Homo sapiens: one gene and its partners. The protein of the gene in region 4 purifies or fractionates together with the protein of the main gene of each other region. This does not show direct contact. Each region holds a gene or a part of one and is shown on either strand. Other genes may lie near its edges.

What was found.
Region 1: the proteins of CDC42BPB (region 4) and FMNL2 purify together in Homo sapiens (affinity purification with western blotting, with the first as the bait; one study listed by BioGRID). This does not show direct contact.
Region 2: the proteins of CDC42BPB (region 4) and DDX21 purify together in Homo sapiens (co-immunoprecipitation; one large-scale study listed by IntAct). This does not show direct contact.
Region 3: the proteins of CDC42BPB (region 4) and RIMS1 purify together in Homo sapiens (co-immunoprecipitation; one large-scale study listed by IntAct). This does not show direct contact.
Region 5: the proteins of CDC42BPB (region 4) and FAM89A purify together in Homo sapiens (affinity purification with mass spectrometry; one large-scale study listed by BioGRID and IntAct). This does not show direct contact.

The regions. Positions count from the first base shown.
Region 1 is NC_000002.12:152,628,240-152,632,899, reverse strand, and holds part of FMNL2 (formin-like protein 2), read right to left. Parts: intron 4,602-4,660; coding exon 4,367-4,601; intron 3,245-4,366; coding exon 3,176-3,244; intron 3,076-3,175; coding exon 2,995-3,075; intron 893-2,994; coding exon 763-892; intron 1-762. UniProt on the Homo sapiens protein: Plays a role in the regulation of cell morphology and cytoskeletal organization. Required in the cortical actin filament dynamics.
Region 2 is NC_000010.11:68,982,869-68,985,568, reverse strand, and holds the end of DDX21 (nucleolar RNA helicase 2), read right to left. Parts: 3' UTR 501-2,700; downstream 1-500.
Region 3 is NC_000006.12:72,175,390-72,180,049, reverse strand, and holds part of RIMS1 (regulating synaptic membrane exocytosis protein 1), read right to left. Parts: intron 476-4,660; coding exon 135-475; intron 1-134. UniProt on the Homo sapiens protein: Rab effector involved in exocytosis. May act as scaffold protein that regulates neurotransmitter release at the active zone.
Region 4 is NC_000014.9:102,966,568-102,971,227, forward strand, and holds part of CDC42BPB (serine/threonine-protein kinase MRCK beta), read right to left. Parts: intron 3,695-4,660; coding exon 3,584-3,694; intron 2,150-3,583; coding exon 1,905-2,149; intron 1,792-1,904; coding exon 1,686-1,791; intron 604-1,685; coding exon 479-603; intron 1-478. UniProt on the Homo sapiens protein: Serine/threonine-protein kinase which is an important downstream effector of CDC42 and plays a role in the regulation of cytoskeleton reorganization and cell migration. Regulates actin cytoskeletal reorganization via phosphorylation of PPP1R12C and MYL9/MLC2.
Region 5 is NC_000001.11:231,036,913-231,042,247, forward strand, and holds the start of FAM89A (protein FAM89A), read right to left. Parts: upstream 3,343-5,335; 5' UTR 3,300-3,342; coding exon 3,009-3,299; intron 1-3,008.

The DNA of each region.
Region 1 (4,660 bases), on a different chromosome or scaffold from region 4:
TGGCTGCTTATGGTTCGATATCACAATTTGAGAATCACAGCCTATAAATGACTGTAAGGTCAATCTGCATATCATTCCTTTTGCTAATCGAATATGCTTTTGAGGGAACATGGTACATTGGATAATACACTTCATGAGAAGTAAGACCAGGTTTCTAGTCCTGTTTCTATCACTTTCTACTCATGTGACTTTGGGCAAGACATTTAACCTCGAAAAATCTCAATTTTCTCACCTATAATAATGGAGATACTATTACCTTGTACATCCCAGCTATCTTAGAGTCACAGATGATTTAAATGACAAAATGTATAACTGTCTTAGCAAAGTAGCAACCAAGAAGTGCTAATAATTTAACTAGTGTCCAGGCAAAGGCAAAATGTTTACAACTGCCACACTTGAGCAAGTAGAATGGCACAAAATCAAATTAAAAGTGTTTGTTGGGTGATGATTCTCAGATTCTCATTCTCACATTTCATACAATAGCAGCAGAATAAAAAGGGCAGTGAATAAAAGAGGGAAGGGACATGACGCTCAGTGGCCTGTGTCTTACAGAAAGGACACAGAGATCACCTTTACACCCATGTGCTCTTCTGCTCTCAGGGGTGGACAACACCACGGCCGATGTGTTCCAGCTCAGTGTGTCTGACTTCTTAGCCTTGGCTTTTTAAATGGGTTCTGAAAAGTGTTTAAGCAGGGAATGGCTCCACCACAATTAAAGGCATTAAATACCCAAGACGAACGGTAATAGCTGAAATCAAGTACCTGCAGCAGCTTTTTCCACATAATGAAGCTCATTATAAAACAGGGACACTTGGTGATATTTTTCTTTCACCACATTGGATATATAGTGCAACAGTGTTTGCTTTCTGTCTGTTGACTTTGTATCTAAGAGCTGAAAACAAAAGGGAACGTGGGTTAGGTACAAGAGTAAAGGGTAACAAGACACTTACCCCTCAGGTGACGATTTCCCACCCAGAGTCATTAACTGAGTAACAGTCGCCCAACAGGCTGGAGCATTCCCAGAGGAGGGTCAGGATTCCATTTGTTCCTTAGTGAACCAGTCCATTGATGCTTAACTGGCTCAAGGACTTTCCAACCAGGGCACATGCTTAACTATAGGGATGACTCTAAGCACCTAAGAATGATTCGCAGCTTTCCTCTACAGTAGTTCCTATTTACCCACAGGTTTACTTCCCATGGTTTCAGGAAACCCACAGGTTTCAGGTATCCAAAAATACTAAGTGGAAAATTCCAGAAATAAACAATTCATCAGATTTGAATTGCGCACCACTCTGAGCAGCATGATAAAACCTCGCACGTGCCATTCCCATCCACCCTAGACCGAGAATCACCCCTTTGTCAAGTGGATCCACGCTGTAATCATTACCTGCCATTAATCACTTAGTAGCCATCTGGGTTATCAGGTTAACTGCCGCCTATTGCAGTGTTTGTGTTCAAGTAACGTGTTTTATTTAACTGCTCTATTTTTTTTTTTTTTTTTTTTTTTGAGATGGAGTCTCGTTCTGTCGCCCAGGGTGGAGTGCAGTGGCACAATCTTGGCTCACTACAAACTCCACCTCCTGCGTTCAAGCGATTCTCCTGCCTCAGCCTCCCGAGTAGCTGGGATTACAGGTGCCTGTGACCCAAAAATTAGCCCAGCTAATTTTCCTATTTTTAGTAGAGACAGGGTTTCGCCATGTTGGCCAGGCTGCTCTCAAACTCCTGACCTCAGGTGATCCTCCCGCCTCAGCCTCCCAAAGTGCTGGGATTACAGGTGTGAGCCACCAGGCCTGGCCTATTTTATTTTTTAGTTATTGTGAATCTCTCACTGTGCCTAATTTATAAATTCAACTTTATAACAGATATGCATCTCTAGAAAAAAAACAGTGTATATATAGGATTCAGTACTATCTGAGGTTTCAGGCATCCACTGGGGGTCTTGGATCACAGCCCCCATGGATAAGGGGGACACTGATTACATGAACTCTCCCAGCCCTGCATCTGCTATCCCACCTTCCTTGCCTTAAAAGCAGGACGGCTCTAATTTTAGTGCTCTTCAAAGTAAAAAGCCAGAGGAGAAATGGGGATGTACAGCCAGCAGGTGCATGCAGGTGCCTCCTACACAGCAGGGCTCCTATGCTCCAGTTTTTACATTTAGCTTAGGCCCTCCCTTATTTCCTAGCCTGTGAAGACCTGAAACAGACATGCTTAACTGATCATGATCTGCTGGAGGCCAGAACTGTGACTGACTAGACACTCCATATTAAATAACTAGCTCCCTGGTCGGGGGACTCAACCCACTGCCCAGCCTTCTCATGTGACAATCACGTTAGGCCTGCACAGTCTGGAGGGAGTCCACGGAGGATTTTCTCTAGTCTTATTCACATTAGTTAGGTGACTCTGAAAATTAGAGCACCCTGCATGCAACAACAACAACAAAAATTTAAGAAAATATAGAAAAGTACTTACAAAAAGCAGTTTGAAAAAATTTCCTGATTCCATCCAACCTCTGCTAATATTTTAACCTATTTCCATTCAGTCTTTCTCCCCACATAGTTTACTTAGCTGAGATTCAACTGTACATGCAAAGCATACCCTGCTTTCTTTTCTAAACACAAATCTTTCTTGGGACACTCTTCATCAGTATGCTAACGGTGGAAGAATAATAGTTCACTGTATTAACTAGTGTTACAGCACATTTAATCATTCCCACAGTTAGACCTTTAGATTGTTAATTTGCAATTATAAATAAAATACAGGATTCAAAATTCAGACACTTGAGAAAAAATTCCTAGAAATGGAAATACTGAGTCAAAGGGTATGAGTAATTATAGGTTCTATGTGCTCTCTGTCAAATGGTGTTCCAGAAAATTAGTACCAGTTGATCCTCCCATAGCAGAAAATATTCATCAAAACATCCTCCACCACCCTAACTTCATCTCTGCCAGCCATCTGTCCTTCAAACAGCTCTCAAATTTCTTTTAGTCCACTCACCAGATCTAAACTCTGAAGTTTAAATCCATAAACTGCTCCTCTTTTACTGCTATTCATGTAGTTTCCAAGGGCTAAGATGATCTGCAAAAGAAGGTGAAAACAGAAGCCCATCAGTACAGCACATCAGGCACTGAACGCAGCTGAAGTAGTCCTTCATACCTACAAGAAAAACTGCACTTGCCTCCAGAATTTTCTTGAGTTTTTGGGACGACTTTATAGAGACAGATGCTGCTATAATCGCATGTAGTTGCTAGATTCCAATCAAAGAAAGAAAAAGGGGAAAAAAGACATGTTAAAAATGGGAAACTAATTGGCAAGTAAATATTAAGACAGAAGAAAACAGGCCTGCATTTAGAGCATACAGGCTTCATGGTGAGAGTCTACTTTTTCTAAGTATAACAAATTTAATTGTCTTGCTAGGTCTCAGGTAATATTGTTACATGCACGATCTTTACTGAAACTGTTCACAATAGCAAGTAACATAGGAACTTGCTTATCACAAAATCTGTAACCAATCTACAACCACTAAGACTCAGAGTTAAGAGTCCACAGCTGCTTCTGGTAGAACTCAATTTCCTGCCTACCACCTCTAATCATGTCATACAATTAATATTTTTAAATCAATGAAGGAGGCATCAAAAATGAAAAAAAAGGGAGGGGAATATAACACCCTCCAGAAGTTCTCAGAACATGTTTTCAACAGACATACTACTATAAGCAGAAACCAACAAATTTATCTAGAAACAGAATTGGGAAAGAACTGACTACTATAATCAGTAACAAAGTCTATTTAGAAACAGAATTGGGAGAGAACTGAAGTTTATGATATTCATAAATCTCCACCAGATTAACACAAGGGAATGAGAGATGGTTGGCTATTATGTCTATATCACCACAGTTTATTATAACAAACTTCCAAGAAAGAAAACTCTTATGGTAAATATAAAGCTTTCAGCAAAAGCTTGTAAGTCTGCTCACTAAAGATGAGGCAACATTTTTAGAAATGAAAGTCTTATTTTCAGTCTTGCCAACACTGCCAGAAGACTAGTATCTTCAGAGAGGAACCAAGTTTGAGAAAAGAACCAAGTTTCTTTGTCCCCTGTCCTTTTGAAATCTAGAGAACATCTGTAGACACAAAAAATGGCATTCTTTCGGAAGAATGGCAATATGGAATATGAACATTCCCCATTTTTCAAATTTACTTTGCATACATAATGTGGAAAAGATGGTTGAAATAAAAATGCAATTTAGAAAGTTCTGGGAAGGAGTCTTTAGAACCCATCACACTGAGTACGATTCTGGGAGAGACTTTAAAAAATAACGATTCCACATTTCTTTGGACCCCCTCCCCTGCCAGAGTCAGTCCACTCACAGGAGTCAGCATCTGAATGCTTTCAGCAAAGTTCCCAATGAAGGCCATGATGGTCATCTTCTGCATGAGCCTCTCGATTTTACTAAACTGCATCATGAACCGATCTTCATCTGACAAGTTTTCCAGAGGCTTCCTTTCCCGCTCGTAGAGCCGAAGCACTTTCACTTCATTCTCAGTTGGTAGGAACCGCATCAAGCATTCCACAAAGTCCACAGGCAGTGTCTTCAAGTCAAATCTAAAGACAGATGTGGAGAGATTAGCATTAGAGAGAAAAACCTCCTACCCCCTTTTCAA
Region 2 (2,700 bases), on a different chromosome or scaffold from region 4:
AATATTAGCCAGGTTTGGTGGTACCCCCCTGTAGTCTCAGCTACTTGGGAGGCTGAGAGGGAAGATCACTTGAGCCTAGGAGTTCAAAGCTGTAGTTCTACCTTTAGAAAACGTATCCTAAGGTGACAGACGAGTATGCAAACACATATGTGAGGATATTAACTTTAGGGTTGTTTATAATGGTGAAAAATTAGAAATAACCAACATGGACATCGAGTACTGGTTAAATGTGTAGTGGCATATCCATACAAGAAAACATGTCATCAAAAATGTCCATGTAAGCCTGTACAAAATTGTGCACAACATGTTGAGGGGGGAAAAGCAATACACAAAATCAAATAATTCCAATTTTATAAATGAACATGTGGAAGACTGCTCACTAAAATATTAGATAAGGGTGACTGGTTTTTTTTCTCTTTAGATTTTTATATCTAGCTTTTATTATTTTTATAATAAATATTTCAAGCTATTTTCATTTTAGAAAACAAAAGCCACTAAAATCAAGTATTACTATCTTTATTATGGTATACAGCAGTATTTTATACATTAGCTCATTTTATAGTAAAAACATTTATGCACAACTGTAGAGAAACTGCTGCACAGATAGCTCCAACTTAAATTAGAAAATATTTTCTTTGTAGAAAATAGTAAAAATTATAACATTTACCAAGCTAACCCAACAAGTTCATTTAAACCAAAAAGTAGCTAAATACATTATACATTTATAAATACAGGTTGAATTCTGGGATCCAGGAGAAACTTTAGTCCTTTATTGAAATAGCCATGTTTTAAGTTATGTGAAGTGAAATTTCTATTAATCTTCTCTCTTACTCTTAATTTATGCCAGATTATTTTTCTTTAGGCTAAATCCATAATCCACAACAAGGTTTTAGCTGTTCTTTTCTAAAGGACGGGTACCATATCCTTTTAATCTGCTTGATAAGGTACCCATGCCTATCCAAATAATGAAATGGTTCAGTTATTATTAAAGCATGCCCAGTATTTGGGCAAAACCAGAATCTAATAAATTACACTGTCACCTAATACCCATGGCTTGATGGGAAGCCATGAGGAACAAGGGTAAAGTGATAAAACTGGCAAGTGGATCAAGGAATAAAAGCCAAGAGAATTCTGAGACCAGAGGGCAAGAAATATCTAGTCGGGATTCAAGGACAGAACTGAAGTTCAAATAGAAAAAGAATGTTGCCTCAAGGATTAGGAGCTGAGCTGGCTATCAGAGCTCCTAGTACATGGTGATCAAATAAGGGGCAGTTAGAGATAAAGACTGGATTAAGCAAGAGAAATCAGGACCAAGAAAGATTCTAGGTATTCACAATAATTAAATGAAAACAAGACAGACCATGCAGCTTTAAATTTCCTAGCATAGTAGTTCCAGGATTCTCAGTACAGAAATAATCTCTGGAAATTAAGGCGAGAAGATAATGCCACTCTTAAGCTCCTGTGCTATGTAGAATGTTTCCCAGAGAAATAATATCTGAGAAATCAGGCAGTTATCTGGCCAGGGGCTACATCAGGTTCTTCAGTTCCCTCAAAACAACTTAATCACATACAGTTTGTCTTAAAAGGAAGCCTCCAAGCAGCTAAAACAAACTTTCAACAGACATTCAGTTTAACAGATCCTATACTGTGGCTTTAGGAACTAGGCCACTGACTACCTAAAAACCCCAGCTTGCCCACTTGAAGTTAACCTCTAGAAACATTAGTGATCTGTGAAGTTTTCACCATTAAAACAATGCTTTATCATCCAAATCATACTTGTTCTTCTCTTTGCTTTCCAGTTATGAATTTGTTACCTTTTTGCATTTGATTATTTCCAGTGGTTTGGTTCTTTTTTTTTTTTTTTTTTTTTACATACTCTTGAGCAATGCTAATCTGCGCCCCCTACTCCCTTAAGTCCTTCTTGGTAAATAATGTTAATCTTCCAATAGGAAGAAGTGGAGTACATTACCATTTAAGCACCATTTATCCAGCCTACTTACAAATAAAGCTATGGAGCCACCTTATACATGTGAAATTCCTTAAAACCCTGGCTTTCTATTAAAATGTACTTTTATATATACTATCTATGAAGAATTCACTAAAGCATGAATCACCTTATAATGAGAAGCTAAAAATGTATCAAAACGAACATAAGTATAGGTAATCCACATCAAACATACTACATCTTCCAAGTCTAGAGCATACACTGGTATAAACTGTATTACAACCCAGATTAGTTTGAAATCTTGTTTCAAAACATTGCTCAGTATTAAGTCTCAGTAGACAAATAATAGGACCACATGAGAAACTGTTCGGCAGGTGGCTGAGGAAACCTTAACTTCCAAAGGCTCAAAGTGGTCCTCCAGAGACTGTTACACTCCCTTAGGTATTTATTTCAGGGAAGGACACTATTAAGGGACACTTTTGAGTATAAAGACAGGTGAACTCACAAAGTATAGGCAGATACATGCTTGATTTTATCTTCTAATCTACAGATAATACATTAGAATAAAAATGTAATGAATTCATACACCTTTCAAAAGGAAAAACTGATGAAGAAGTAACAATAAAGTTATAAATGATAATGATCAGATGAAATAATTTAAATGAAGCTTGTCTGTGTCTGAAAGAGACAGGGACTTGGCAAGTGGTCAAAAGGAGGCACAATGTGCTTTTAACTTTGCATGAAAAATAATGTTC
Region 3 (4,660 bases), on a different chromosome or scaffold from region 4:
CTTTTGTTTTTCCATGTGGGGCCTGAGAAGTACTACTTCCACATATTCCTCGTAATAGAAGTTAAATTCTTGAAAACGGCTTTGCTCTCCTAGCAAAATCTTGCCTTTTGCTTACAGGGTGAAAGAACTATTACCTCTCTCTAGGAGGTTCACTTCTAGACCTGGATGAAGCCTGCTTCTGTTCAGGCCCCAAGGCTTGCTGCGAGGGCTCAGCCCCTTTGCTCCTGTCTGGTGGTGCGCTGGGAGGAGCAGCATCCTGGGAGGAGGCAGCTGCTGTGCTTAGGGGTGTCTGAGACCGCGATCGCTCTTGGAGTCGTGCTTTCTTTTCTCTTGGTACCTCAGAGCCAGCACCTGTAGCTGTATCACTCAGGGTTCCATCCTGACTTGTCTGCTGAGGGCCACTTCCAAAGAACCATGCCCCAGATTTGGTTAAGATTTCTTGTTGCTTTCGACATAAATTGCATACCCACATAACCTATTTGAAGAAGAAAGAACAATATAAATTTTTATGCCCTCTTGGAAATAATTTTTCAGTATCTTAAAATATATTTAAGAAAAAAAGAACAGTATTCATTTTCATATTTATCCTTGCAAATTTCTTGTGAAAATGGTCCTCCCACAAGTCACAGTCAAATATATGAATGCCTAGACAGGGACTTGTCTGAGACTAGAGAGCCTCTCAGCAGCCAGAGTAGAGGTTTTTTCTCAGCATTTCTGATTTGATTATTCTGAATTTCCTTTTACCATATATCTGTCATATTTTTTATAATTGACTCTGGAGTGTTAGCAAAAATGTTCTAAGCAAGGTAGTTAACTGATTAGAAAAATGTTACCAGGAAAAAAAAAGAAAAATGTTACCAGGAACTACAGAATCAGTACGTAAATACATAAACCTCAGTACTTGCAAGTATTTTTAAAAAGTCTGTCTTTTCAAAAATCACCCACAATTAAAGGCAATATTAAAAATATTCACATAGAAGAAACATACAAAGTAAGCACACAAAAAAGGTCAATGTGTATATTTTCTCTAGTTTCTTAGTGATAAACTAACCTTAAGCTTATTTATGCTATAAAATATAATTTTCCATGCACATATTTACTAAAGCAATAAATGTGACTCTGAGTTTATTCATATGTGACCACTCCAATGTAATGTTCCCCAAGGAGAGCTATTGGGGAACCATCATTTAGCAACATATCCACTGATAAATTATAAGATGTAGCACCACTTAAAATAAACTATATGTCTGTTCTCCATTTGATGACCTTTAAAATGAATGTAATAATGAGGACGATTATCATAATAAAAAATAATAATAGCAGCAATGACTAGCTGTCACAGGGCAAAGATAGGTGCTAACAGCTCCATGAGCTGTCTTTTCAAATATCCTCAGTACCTCTGTTTCTTTGTGCTGTGACTTTACATCGCTGCCTCAGTTACATGCCTCCAAAAGCACTTCAGGTGTTTTGTGTTTGTTTCTACTTCAGAAACTACCTCCACAGGAAAAACTAATTACCAAACTCTAGGCTTCCTTTTCACAAATACTGACTCAATCAACATGTACTCAAAAATATTGCATCAGGATGAATAAATCGTAGAAACATTAACTGATAAGTAATAGAAAATAGTAAAAGAAGCATTGTTTAGTAGGTCAAATGAAGAAAATGAACTACTGAAAATATTCAGATAAATGGGGAAAAACTGTAACTGTAGCCATAGAATAAGATGAAGCTAAAATAAGAATAAGAAAAAGACAGGAAAAAAGTAATACACTTTTTTAAAAGGAAAATACTGCAGGTGAATTAAGAACTGCTTTCCAGGAAAGAAAACTCAAATGAATTATAATATAGGAAAAATTAAGACTGAAGAGAAATACTTGCTATAAAAAATTTAAAATTCATGAAGGTTAATTGATTTATTTAGACTTTCCCAGTCATAAAATGAAGTGTACTAGGTTCAAAAAAGCAGTTAGGTATAATGTCTACACAAAGTATTATAACCAATATTACGGAATTCTCATCTACTAAGATGTCAAACAAGATGAACAATTCATTGCATAAACCTATATCAAAATAAGGATTTTATGGAAAGTAACTTCAATTTAAGTGCTAGCCAAATAAGGGTATATTTTACAAAATCTATTACTGAGTAGGTCCCTCAGAAGTCCTGATTGTTTGAACATGGACATATTAAGGGTAACATTAAAAGGTGCAGTACTCCAGGGCCAGGACCTTCATGAACAGTCAGTGACACTGAGTCTCTTCTGCCCAGAACCCTGAGTGGGGACAGGACGTGTGTGGTGGGAAGGTTTTGGTTGGTTGGTTTGTTTTTTGTCTCTTTAGCTGACAGACCATAATAAGAAAGTTTGAAATCATGTAATTCAACAAGACTGGTATGAAATTTTGACTATTTTACATCAAATAAGAAGACGTTAAATTTGTATTTCTCAGACTAATAGTAAGCAACTTATTATCATCATTTAAAGTAGGTTCTTTTCAGCCAGGTGTGGTGGCTGACACCTGTAATCCCAGCACTTTGGGAGGCTGAGGGGAGCAGATCTTCTGAGGTCAGGAGTTCGAGATCAGTCAGGCCAACATGGTGAAATCCCGTCTCTACTAAAAATACAAAACTTAGCCGGGCATGGTGGTGCATGCCTATAATCCCAGCTACTTGGGAGGCTGAGGCAGAAGAATCACTTGAACCCGGAAGGCAGAGGTTTCAGTGAGCTGAGATCCCGCCACTGTTCTCCAGCCTGGACGATAGAGCGAGACTCCATCTCAAAATAAATAATAAGAAATAAAATAAAATCAAGTAGGTTCTTTTCTACAGAAATATCAAGGTATACTTAGGATAAATATGCAGTTTTTAAAAAACCAGAAAACACAAATTTACAATTACAAAGTTTCTAAAATTGAATAAAGCTAAATAAAGAAGCAGAAAGGAGCACAATAATACTGATGAAGGGTAAAGGATACTCTTCATTTTACATTTGAATATTCTCTAGAAATTATTATCACAATCTTATTTTGATTGCTTCACATTTTTAAACGTTACAAAAAATGGGTCAATGAGAACTAACTGCCAGATTTGGGCATGTTCCAAATTTTGAGTATGTGCAGAACTGCTACCAGATCAATTAAAAGAAACACAATTTATTATTATTAAATAAGTTGAATTTTACAATTTAATTTCATTTCCAGTTTATTCAAAAGGTTACAATTAGTGACTATGTCAAAACAGCATAGGCATTTTAAATTCTATTCTTAAAATACTTTGTATTCATTTAAGTCTGTGATGCTTTGTTAATTTTTTTGTTTTTAACATTTAGTAAAATACTGTATAATTCCAAACTTTTTCTATGTCTTATTTCCTTGTACACCACAACATTTTTAAATTTGTATTTTTAAATTAACTATAAGTGTAGTCAATCCATCCTCCAAACTGAAAGTAAAATTAACCATGGCAATGTTAAAATATTTATTTTTATCAAAATATCACCTCCCAGTCTCTATTTTCAGTTCTACAAATTAATCATACCACAAATTTTACAAATAAAAAATAAATTGCTCATATAAGTTATAAAGAAAAATATATAAGATTACAATAGAATATTGTCATACATTTCAACACAGTTAATACCAAACATTGCAGACCTCTACAGTACATTTTTTGAAGTCAGTATTAAGTATTATATTTGCCTGAAGCTATAGATAATACAAGAGTGCTGTAGGGAGTCATTTTTAACAGATTTTTTTTTAGAAAAGAGGATAAGACGTAACTTTGCCTACAAAAAAATGCTATTTATTTAAAGCACACAAACACACCTTTTAGAAATTGCACTATGCAGGATTATACCCTGATTAAATACCCTGGGATGTGTTCCAAACTAATCTAAACTAAAGTAGGCCTGTGCAATAACTTATCTTAACAATTTACAGATGTTAAGCAATCACACACAAACTCAATTCAAATACTATCGTGAAGTTACATGACTTTTGAAACACCATGCCACATATCAGAAAATATGCAGGACTGAAAATTGTATTCTGACCTTTTGCTGTAACTGCATTTTTAATTGTCTTTTCCTCTTAATTCTTAAGAAGTACAATAAACTATTTTATAAAACCCATAGGAATTTTTTACCCAGAGAAATAAAAATTGCAACACTTTCTACTATACATATACAGAAAATTCCATAGATAAAACCACAAGTTTGGCAGAAAAACTAAAAAGGTATTCAAGTGGAAGAAATATTAAAATATTTACAGAGCCGGACACACAGAACAAAAGAAATGTGCCCTTGATTTATTCTTGATGATATTACTAAGGTGATTCACGACGAGGTCTAGAATAATTTCTTTTTTTTTTTGGTGGGGGAATGGAGTTTTGCTCCTGTTGCCCAGGCTGGAGTTCAGTGTCGCGATCTTGGCTCACTGCAACCTCCGCCTCTTGGGTTCAAGCGATTCTCCTGCCCCAGCCTCCCGAGTAGCTGAGATTACAGGCACCTGCCCCCACGCCCAGCTAATTTTTGTATTTTTAGTAGAGACGGTGTTTCACCATGTTGGGCAGGCTGGTCTCAAACTCCTGACCTCAGGTGATCCACCCTCCTCAGCCTCCCAAAGTGCTGGGATAACAGGCGTGAGCCACTGCACCCAACTC
Region 4 (4,660 bases):
CATGACTGCAGTTTAAAAAGACACCAAACTTCCAAGACTCAAGAATGAAAAAATTCTATTACTCCATAAATATATATACCTACTACGCACCCACAAAAATTAAAAATAAAAACTCTTTTTTTAATTACAACTTCACACCTTAGGAGCGGAGGGCCAGGTCCCAGCTCGCTCCAAGTCTCCCTGCTGCTTCTGCAGCCGCTTTGGGAGGGCTCTGCCTCCCCTGTCTCTGAGAACGCAAGGGGTGTGAACGGTTTGCCCCAAGTCCTTCAGTGGGTTGGTGGGGGCGTATCTCCACCTCTATTCCAACAGAACCACTGCCCCAGACATGAGAAGTTCTGGGGAACAGCAGTGAGACCTGCACCCCAGCCTGAGAGGCACGGCCTGGCGTGGAGCACAGGATCAGGCAGAAGAGGCGGGGCAGACCCCATGGACTGAGCAGGGAGCGGATTCACGGCCGCTAATGGGGCCGCGCACGTACCACTGAATGATTTCCGCAATCTGAGCTTCCCAGTGGGCCACTGACTCCTTCTTGGCTGCCAGATCCTGCAGCTCATCCTCCAGCTGTCTATTTTGAGCTGTGAGTTTATCCACAAAGGAACAGAGCTGAAATGAAACAATTTCACCACAGAACTTGTTAATCGGGCATCCTTTAAGTATGCTGGATTTAACACTGGAAGTTCTTTTGAAGACTCTGAAAGTTTTCTTTAATCGTCATGAGATTTTTCCAAACTAAGTTCATGATATGGATTTTTTTCACTGTATCTAGCTTAAGTCACATTTCAATTCAAATCTAAACCTAAACTGATGGAGCTGGAGCTAGTGACTTCAGGCAATTGGCATCTTTTCGCTGAATACAAACATCCTATTTAAAAGACCAAACACATGACTCCATTCAAAAATTAAAACAGTCACGTGTAGTGAAACAGCAAGAACACGGTCTGAGAAACGTGTCCTTGCACACACAGCGTGAATGCACTCACGCAAGCCTAGACGGTGCGGCTGCCGCACACCAGGCCCTGTGGTACAGCCTGTCAATTCCAGGCCCCAAGCCTGCATACCATGTTGCTGTGCGGGACGCTGCCGGCGGCTGTAGCACAATGCTAAGTATCTGTGTATCTCAACACAGAAGAGGTAGAGTAAAGTACAGTATTATGATCGTACGGGACGCCTGTTGTACACACAGTCTATCATTGATGGAAGCATCGTTATATGGCACATTACTGCACTGTAAAAAGACACCAAACTTCGGCCGGCGCAGTGGCTCATGCCTGTAATCCCAGCACTTTGGGAGGCTGAGGTGGGTGGATCATGAGGTCAGGAGATTGAGACCATCCTGGCTAACACGGTGAAAACCCGTCTCTACTAAAAATACAAAAACTTAGCCAGGCGTGGTGGCAGACGCCTGTAGTCCCAGCCACTTGGGAGGCTGAGGTGGGAGAATGGCATGAACCTGGGAGGCAGAGGTTGCAGTGAGCCAAGATCGCGTCACTGCACTCCAGCCTGAGCGACAGAGCGAGACTCCATCTCAAAAAAAAAAAACCAAACTTCCAAGACTCAAGAATGACGACATTCTACTCCCCCATAAATATATATACCTACTATGTACCCACACAAATTAAAAATAATTTTTTTTTAAATTACAACTTCCACACAAAGTGCTAACTCAGGTACTTTGAATTAATTACCTTTTCATTTTCAGCAGTTAGCTTCTTGTTTTCATCAAACAGCATCGCTCTTTCTCGTTCGTATTTATCTTTTATTGTACCTACTGCCTCCTCCATCTCGTTATGCCTGCCAAGGTGAGCGAGAAACAGTTTTAAAAGCTCGTAACTTCACTGATATTCGTATCTATGGCGTGGGTATCAGCTTGCATCTTCTGAACTGAGAAGCTCATGAAAACCTACCGTTCTCGCTTTGACTTTTCTAACTTATCTTTTAACATCAAGATTTCTTTCTGCAGGGCCAGCTGGTGGCTTTCTGAATCATGCACCTCCTTCTTCACATTTTTCACTTCTAGCACATGGGAGGCCTCACGTCTGACCAATTCCTCTTCATAAAATAAGACTTTCTTCTCCAGCTCGGATTTGATTTTGGAAATCTCTTGCTGGTGCTCTAAGGTGGCACCCGCTCCCCGGCCTCCTTGCTTCACCTGAAGACAAAGGTTAACATAAATTGACAAACCTCTGTGTCCTCAAGGGTCACACTGTCCTTTCAACCCCTTTCATCCCAAGCAAGTGCAGACACCTTCCCAAGGACTGTGTGTGCCTGGTCTACACCAGATGACGTAGCTGACCTGGCTAACGTGATCCAGGTTCTAGGGGGTCACAGCAGGAGACGGCCTTGCAGGGGGATGTGCCCAGGTCTGCCTGGGACCCCCGAAGCTCTGCCCCACACCCTGTTCATTCATGCTTGCAGCATTCTTCTGAGGGCTGACTCTGTGCTGGGCCCCCTCCTTGTGACTGGGGTGACACTGAGGTCTCTGCTCTCTTGGGGCTGGCGGGAACTGACAGCAAACCAGTAAAGGGGCAGAGGGGCCGTGCACCCCAGCCAGGTTGTAGGGAGTGGAGGGCGTGCCAGGATGGCTGGGGCGGCTTCTGTAAGGTGCTGGCCTATTAAGTGAGGTGTCAGGCTAGGGGCAAAGAACAAGGGCACAGGCTGGAGTGAGGTGGGACGTGTTGGCAGTGTTTGCAGCATGCAGAGAGGCCAGTGTGTCTGGTGTGGCGGGGCAAGGAGGGGCAGGAGAGGCACTGCTGGGCTGGAGCAGGCAGGAGGGTAGCTGCTGGACAGCTGCGGAGCCACGGAGGCCCTGCCGCACAGGAATGTGATCCGGCTTTGGTCTGCCAAGCTCACTCTGCCTGCTGTGCAGAGAGGAGACTCAAGGGCTGAGAAAGGGGCAGGAGCCTCGGGCACCACATGCCGAGGTCCAGCCAAGCCCGCTGCCAGGGAGGAACAGCATCTCAGGCCCACGTCCCAGAGGAAGAGTTGCCAGATCACTGAGGCGAAGGGAGAGGGCAGACCCATCGCACGCGGCTCACACATGAGGAGATCCAGGCCACGCCATACTGCCAAGGAGATCCGCCTCCGGCCCCTTGCCCACTTGGCCACTGTGGCCTTCCCCACTCCCGCCCTCCGCGGCCTCCCTGCTACCCTCCAGCCCCACCAGTGGGCCCCGACTGATGGCCAGCCTGTCTCTTCCCCAGTCAGCAGCAGGCTACGGGCTTTAAGGAGCTTTTCCAAAACTCAACTGCACCGAATTTAGAATACCACGATGTGAAGAAGGCTATGAATTGATGGGGCTGGAGTAGGAAATGAGCCAATTAGATATTCGTTTCCTAGGACTTACTGTGAATTGCCTGAAACTTTTATATAACAAAGGAAAAACATGAACTTGGCCTTTAAAAATGAAAGCAGTCACGAAGGCAGGGGTCACACCCCCCACCTCTCCACATGTGGGTCTTGTCTGAACAGCCTCGGGTGACACTCGGCCCGGACCACACATTACACAAGGTGACTTCCATGTGGTGGCGTCAGCAAAGATAAGCATCCCTCTCAGTTAAGGGCAGAGACCCCCGCCCAGCACTACCTTGAGGGCCTCCAGCTCGCTTTCCATTTGCTTGCAGAAGTTCTCGCTGTGCTCACGAAGCTTGCGCTCCTTGGAGGCCTCAGCAACAGCATCATCAAGCTGAGCTTCCAGCTACAAAAGGAAGATCCAGTTTCTATTAACAAAAAGCGAGCCCTGCTTCACCAGTTACAGCAGCACCCACGGGACCTCCACAAGAACAAGACCTCGAAGGAGCTCTGCGCGTGTTCACCCTTCATCAAATCTTATCACAAATTAAAGTTTGAGAAATACACTTCTGGGTTCAACTGGGATGGTTGGTTACTAATAAAACAAGGTTCAATTCTAGCTTAAATTGACACTTAAATTTCAAGAAAGGATACATTTCTTGAAATTTAAATTTCACTGATTCGTGAAAACCAGTACTTTTGATATCTGTAGAACTTGAATTCATTTATTAAATGGGCCATTTCAAACACGCACACGAAGAACGAGCAGAATAGCGAACACACGTGCCGGCACCCAGCTTCAACAGTGAGCTCCCGAGCCAAGCCCGCTTCATCTCTGCCTGTGCCCAAACCACTCGAGGGCAATCCCAGGCACTGTTATCACTTCCCCCATATGTGGAATGCTAATTCCTCATTAGGGGTATCACTAACTTCAGTTTTAACTGCCTGTAACTACAAATATATTTGGGTTGCAAAATAGACTAAGAAGAAAACAAACAGGTCCTCTGGGGCTAAAGAACAAAGAGCCCTGAACTTGAAAGGAACAGGAGCATGTGCTTCCAGGCCTTCTCATTTATGGGATTTATCAAGGAAATTTTAATAGAGTTCTAAACTAAGCATCGCTTACAATATGTCAACCATTCACAGCAGAACACTCAGAACACCCAGGGCGGCACAGGGCTGCAAACCCTGGGGTCCTGAGACATCAGGGGTGTGCAAGGCCCTTCCTTTCCTAATTAGCTATCTGTGGGGGCCAGGATTTCTTCATGTACTTTATCCAGAACGGTGTAGCAAAACGGATTGAAGAAACAGCCATGAGAACTCAACTGTTTTCCATTCAGCCAGATATTAAAGAACAGCTAACAAAATGTAA
Region 5 (5,335 bases), on a different chromosome or scaffold from region 4:
ATTGATTATTAAGCTTCAAAACCTTGCTAACTGCCATACAGTGGTATACTACACACTCACTGAAGTCATTATAATATATCTTGACTGGGAAAATAATTGCAATGTGCAGCCCAAAAAGCAAACCAAAATATATGTGATCAATGTGTTGTATATATGTATGTGTGTGTGTGTGAGAGTGCATGCATGTGCACAGACAGCAGACTGCAATGGTTAAATAGGGCTTTGGAGCCAAAGAGACCTGGTAGGGTCTGTGACCTTATGGGAGTTCAACTCTCAGCATCCAATTCTTTAATATAAAACAGACTTTGAGTATCTATCTCATGGAGAATTTATACCATTAAATAAGATACTATATAGAAAGCACTTACATTGCACCTAACAGAAGATATCCCAAAATACTAAAAGTGATTATTTCTAGGTGCTGGCACTGTAATTTTTAATTTTTTGCTTGGCTACATTTTCCATGAAAAAGCTTAAGTTATCTTTGATCCCCTTTTCATCATCTTCCTTGACTCAGTAATTCCTCCAGCTTCGGCTTCAGAAAAGTGTCTCCCACATGAGTCTTGTTTCACATTAGCAAGCCCCCTACCCTGCTGGGGACTCCATCACCTCTCCCATGAACACCTCTCATCTTCCTGTTGAGCCTCCAAAGTCCAGCTCTCCCTTCTGCACCCTGCTGTAGAATTCATTTCTTCAAAGTCCAACTGGGATAATACCATTCTCCTGCTGAATGCCCATCCTTGCTACTCAGGCTTCTCAGAGTCCACTCGGTCCACCTGCCCAGGCCCTTCTTGCTCACATTTCAAACTGGCGCACTCCCAGTTCCAGCTCCGCAGCTACCTTCCTGGTGCCTCTTTCCCTTGTCGAAATTCTGTCGCCTTCTGAGGTCTTCCACACCACCCTGCTCCCTGTCCCTATTAGAAGTTGCCCCTCTTTCTATGCTTGCTTTAAAAAAAAAAATTTCTTTAAGGCATTTATCACATTCTACCATGACATCTAGTTATGTCCCCTGCCACAGATTTGACGTCAGGCCTTCAATTTAAACAGATCAACACAAACTATTTTGCAGATATCTCAGGAATGAACTCCCAGTTCTTGTTTTGCAAGGCCTCCCCAGAGGGAGTCTCAGCTTGAGTTGTCCACTCAGACCCCATGGCCCCAAGTCAGTAAATCAATTAAAAAGCCGAAAGATTCTCTGGGCAACTTTAAAGGCCTTGTGACATTTCTTGAAAGGAACTTGTCAAAACCTGCAGCCATATCTTATCTTTATCTCAGCTAAATACCAGGCAGACCAAAGATGGCTGTTTATTTTTCTTGTGCTTCAAATAGGCTTACAGAGAGCTCTGGTCCAAGGCGTAATTATACGGATGTGGTTGTGCTTCAGTCACACCAGGAGGGACCTGGAAAAATACTTCTGGGAATGGCACGTTGACTCCCAAGCCACCATAGCAAGACTCCAGAGCATGTTTATAAACCACAGCTTCACAACAGGAGCGGCCCCGAGGTTTTTCTATCTCTTGCTCAAGTATGGAATTTAAATAATCAAAGATGATCTTCCTACTTCACCCCCGTGGTTCTGCTATGTCCAAGTTCAGACTGTAAACACACTACGTGTAGATTTATCTAATTAAAATGCAGTTCACCAGCTGTGTGATGCTTATGTCAATGAATGTTTTTTAATAAATTAAAAACGGTTGGCTTGGAATTTAAGTGGTTCTGTAAGAAGCTTAGAAAATCTTTTCAGTGAGAATTGGAAATCACTTCAATGCCAGCTACAGAGTAGGAAGACAATATCTCTTTGATTAAAAGTGTTAAGGCTGCTTTCTGAATTCAATTAAGTCTTAGTTTTCAGAACAGATAATGCTCCTGAAAAAAAAGTATGCATACCCTGAATTTTTCTAAACAATATCTTAAATGCACTAGATACATATTTAAAAGATTCCTATAACAATTTATTTTTTGGCAAATTTAGTTTTGGGAAAAGGCAGCTTTCCTAATGTTAGATTTCTTAACAATTTACCTATAGGGAAAGGAGACAACCTGGACGAGGTGAATGGAAAGGGAGGCTTTTAAAACGAGGGGATTGGGAGGAGGTGATGGGGGCCAGTAAGATGGTAGAAAAGAGGAAAAGTTTTTGATTTCTTCTTGCCTGGCCTACGCCTGGCCGAGAAAGCTGGGGAAAGACTCGCTGTTGCCTAAATCCCTGCCCTTGTCCTACTTTTAGCGTCACCCTAAATCATGTGTGTTCTGGTCCACAAACAGCTAATGTACTTCCCAAGCACAGAGAAACACTGAGCCCATGGTATGGAGCTTAGACACAAGGCGAAGAACTCACATGGACAGCACCCAGACCGGGAGGACAGCCACCTCCCACCTTTCTCAAGAGGGTTTGGGCAATCAGCTTCGCGGGGCTGAGGGACCCGGCCGCCTCCCTCGCCCGGGGTGCGCGTCTGCTTTCGCAGCCATCTGTGCGCCGGGGCCATCCCGCGGTAATCGGATCACGGACGCGCGGCCTGGGGCGCCGGAAAGGGGGCCGGGCTGTTCCAATCTGCTGTCTACACTGGCGGCGGACAAAAGTTGTCCTCTTCGTGGTAGGAAAACGCAATCGCGTTAATCCGTTGGGCCGCTGTGAAAGCCTTTCCCCCACCGGGAAGGTCTGTTTCACTCGGGGAGAGGTGACAAGGCCGCCCCCGCCCCCAGGCCAGGCACGAACCCCGCACAGCGCTTCCGGGCGCCCAGGTTTCCGAGCCAGCGGGGCCGGACTGAGGGCGCCGGGCATAAGAAAGCCGCCCTCTGCGCGCGGGGCTCTCCCGCGGGGGTTCCAATCGTGGGCACGGAGCACGCGAGAAAAATGGGGGTCGTTGGGAGGACGGCGCCGGCGCCTGGGGCGGAGGAGCCCGAAAGGGCGGGTGGGCGCGGGGACTTCCGGACAGAGCGCGGTCCCCGCGAACTTTCCCGGGACGGCGAGCCCGGCCGGGAAGAGCCCCAGCTCGCGGAGCCCCACTCACCATCTCTTTGCGGAGCAGCGCCAGAGCGGCGTCCAGGTTGGGAGGCTTGGCGGGCAGCGCTGCCGCCCGGGCCCCGCCGCCGCCCGGGCCCCCGCGGCTCAGCTCGTCCTGGATGCGCGACTTCTGCGCGTACAGCCGCTCCAGGTGCCGCCAGCCCCCAGACGCGCCGCCGCCCGACGCCGAGTGCAGCAGCCCGCTCAAGCTCTTTGGCAGCGGGGGCAGCCCGTCCACCCGCAGCCCCCGGACCGCGCCGTTGCCCGCGGCCCCGGGCGCCGCCCGGGCCCCACTCATCGCGCCGCGGCCCGGCCACGCGCCTGCCCCGCTGCAGCGAACCAAGGCTTTCCCCCGGCCCGCCCCCTTCCCGGCGGTGCCCCGCCCACTTCCCCTCCCGCGCCACGCCCCCCCGGCCCCGCCCCCTCTCCTCGAGGCCCCTGCGCGGGCCCCGGGTCCGGGTGGCGTCCGCGTCCAGCAGCCGGGCTCGCCTCCACCCGGGTCTCCTCCTCCCTCGCGCCCCTCCAGCGCCCTAATTCATCTCCAACTCCGCGTGACTACCCTCTAACCCCCCGACTCACCTCCAGCCCCGTCACGAACCCTTCTGTGCCACTCCCTAGCTCCGAACCTACTAAGCCCCCCGCGACCCGCAGCTTCCCGGTTCACCCCCATCTCTGTCCCCACCTCCTCTGAACCACCTCCCAGCTTCCCGGCTCACCCCTAGCTCCGAACCCTCTCACCCGCGCCACCCCGAACCCCAGCTTCCCGGCTCACCCGCATCTCTGTCCCCACCTCCTCTGTGCCAACCCCCAGCTTCCCGGCTCACCCCCAGTTCCGCCCCCACGCCCTCTGTGCCACCCTCAGCTCACTGGCTCACCCTCAGCTCCGAACCCACTCACCCCCCACCCCAGGCTTCCGGATCACCCCCATCTCTGCTCCCACCTCCTCTGTGCCACCCCCAGTTCACTGGCTCGCCCCCAGCCCCGTCTCCACTCCCTCTGTCCCACCCCTCAACGCCCGCTCACCTCCAACCCGGCTCCAGACTTCCCCCTTACCTGCCAGCGCTCCTCAGCTCCTTGCCTCACCGATCCCTGCCCTGCCCAGGGGGCGGCCCAGCTTCAGATCCCACGAAGCAGGCCGTTGCAGGGGGTGGGGGTACCGAGGCTCTGGCTCACAACCGGCAGGACGTCGAGGGCAGGAGGCCTGGCTCTGGTCCCAGGACCCCCGGCCCTCCCCGAGGGCGGAATCCAGCCCGCCTCCTGCTGCCTCCCACTCGCCGCGGGGGGCGGCTGGGGGCCCCAGACCCGGGCAGGTCGCTCCTTGCCGCCGGGCGCGCTGGCCTTCTCAGCACGGCCTTGTCCAGCAGTACCCGCAGCAGTCAGCAAGAACGCCAGACCCACTTTTGAAACTTCAAAACACTAGTAAACATGCCTTTCATTCTGGCCATAAACACAAGAGTAACTCTAAGTGGAAATGTCAGGAAACCAGAGAAAGGGATTAAATCTCGGAAATTATCCATCAGCTCAGGCAAAAATAAACACGACGCACACCTCAGAGGAAAAGAGAAGAGAGAGAGAGACTCTGCCCCTCCCAGGAAAAGTAAAAATGACAGGCAGTTATAACCAGATTAGAGATAGAAAAGATCAAGAAGTAAACGCTACAGCCCAACCGCAGATTAAAAACTAATGCAGTGTATAGATTGGATAACTTTAATGCCCATTCATTATTGGCTTTAATTATAAAGGGATTTAATTTTCTAGCTACATTCAAGGGGATCAAAATTATAAAGTGTTCTGAGCACTTCAGACACCCAACATAAAAGAGCCCTGCACTTTGGGTTGTTTTATACCCTTTACCACCTCCTAGAGCCCACCCCAGAAGCAGTGTCTTTGAAATTGGCACAATATTCTCCCTGGACGGTTGCAAGTGGGTGAGACTGATATGAAGAAGCTTTAGTGCAGGCGGTGTGATTGACAGCACCCAGGCTTCCCACCCCACCCACTGCCCAGAATTTTCCGCCTCTTCACTGTGCCTCACCTTCTACTAATTACCTAGTCACATTTCTGGATGTCAGGTATTTATTCATTCACTTATGTAAACGGTGGGTGTCTTCAGGAGAGTGACCAGTCTGCCTGTGTGGGAGTAAGGGAGAGGAAGGGGTGGGAAGCATTTTGACATTCGGTTCACACCTTAGCATGAATTTTTTTTTTTTTATGAGACAGTCTATCACTCAAGCTAGAGTGCAGTGGCGTGATCTCAGCTCACTGCAACCTCTGCCTCCTGGGTCAAGCAATTCTCCTGTCTCTGCCTCCCAAGTAGCTGGAATTACAGGCATG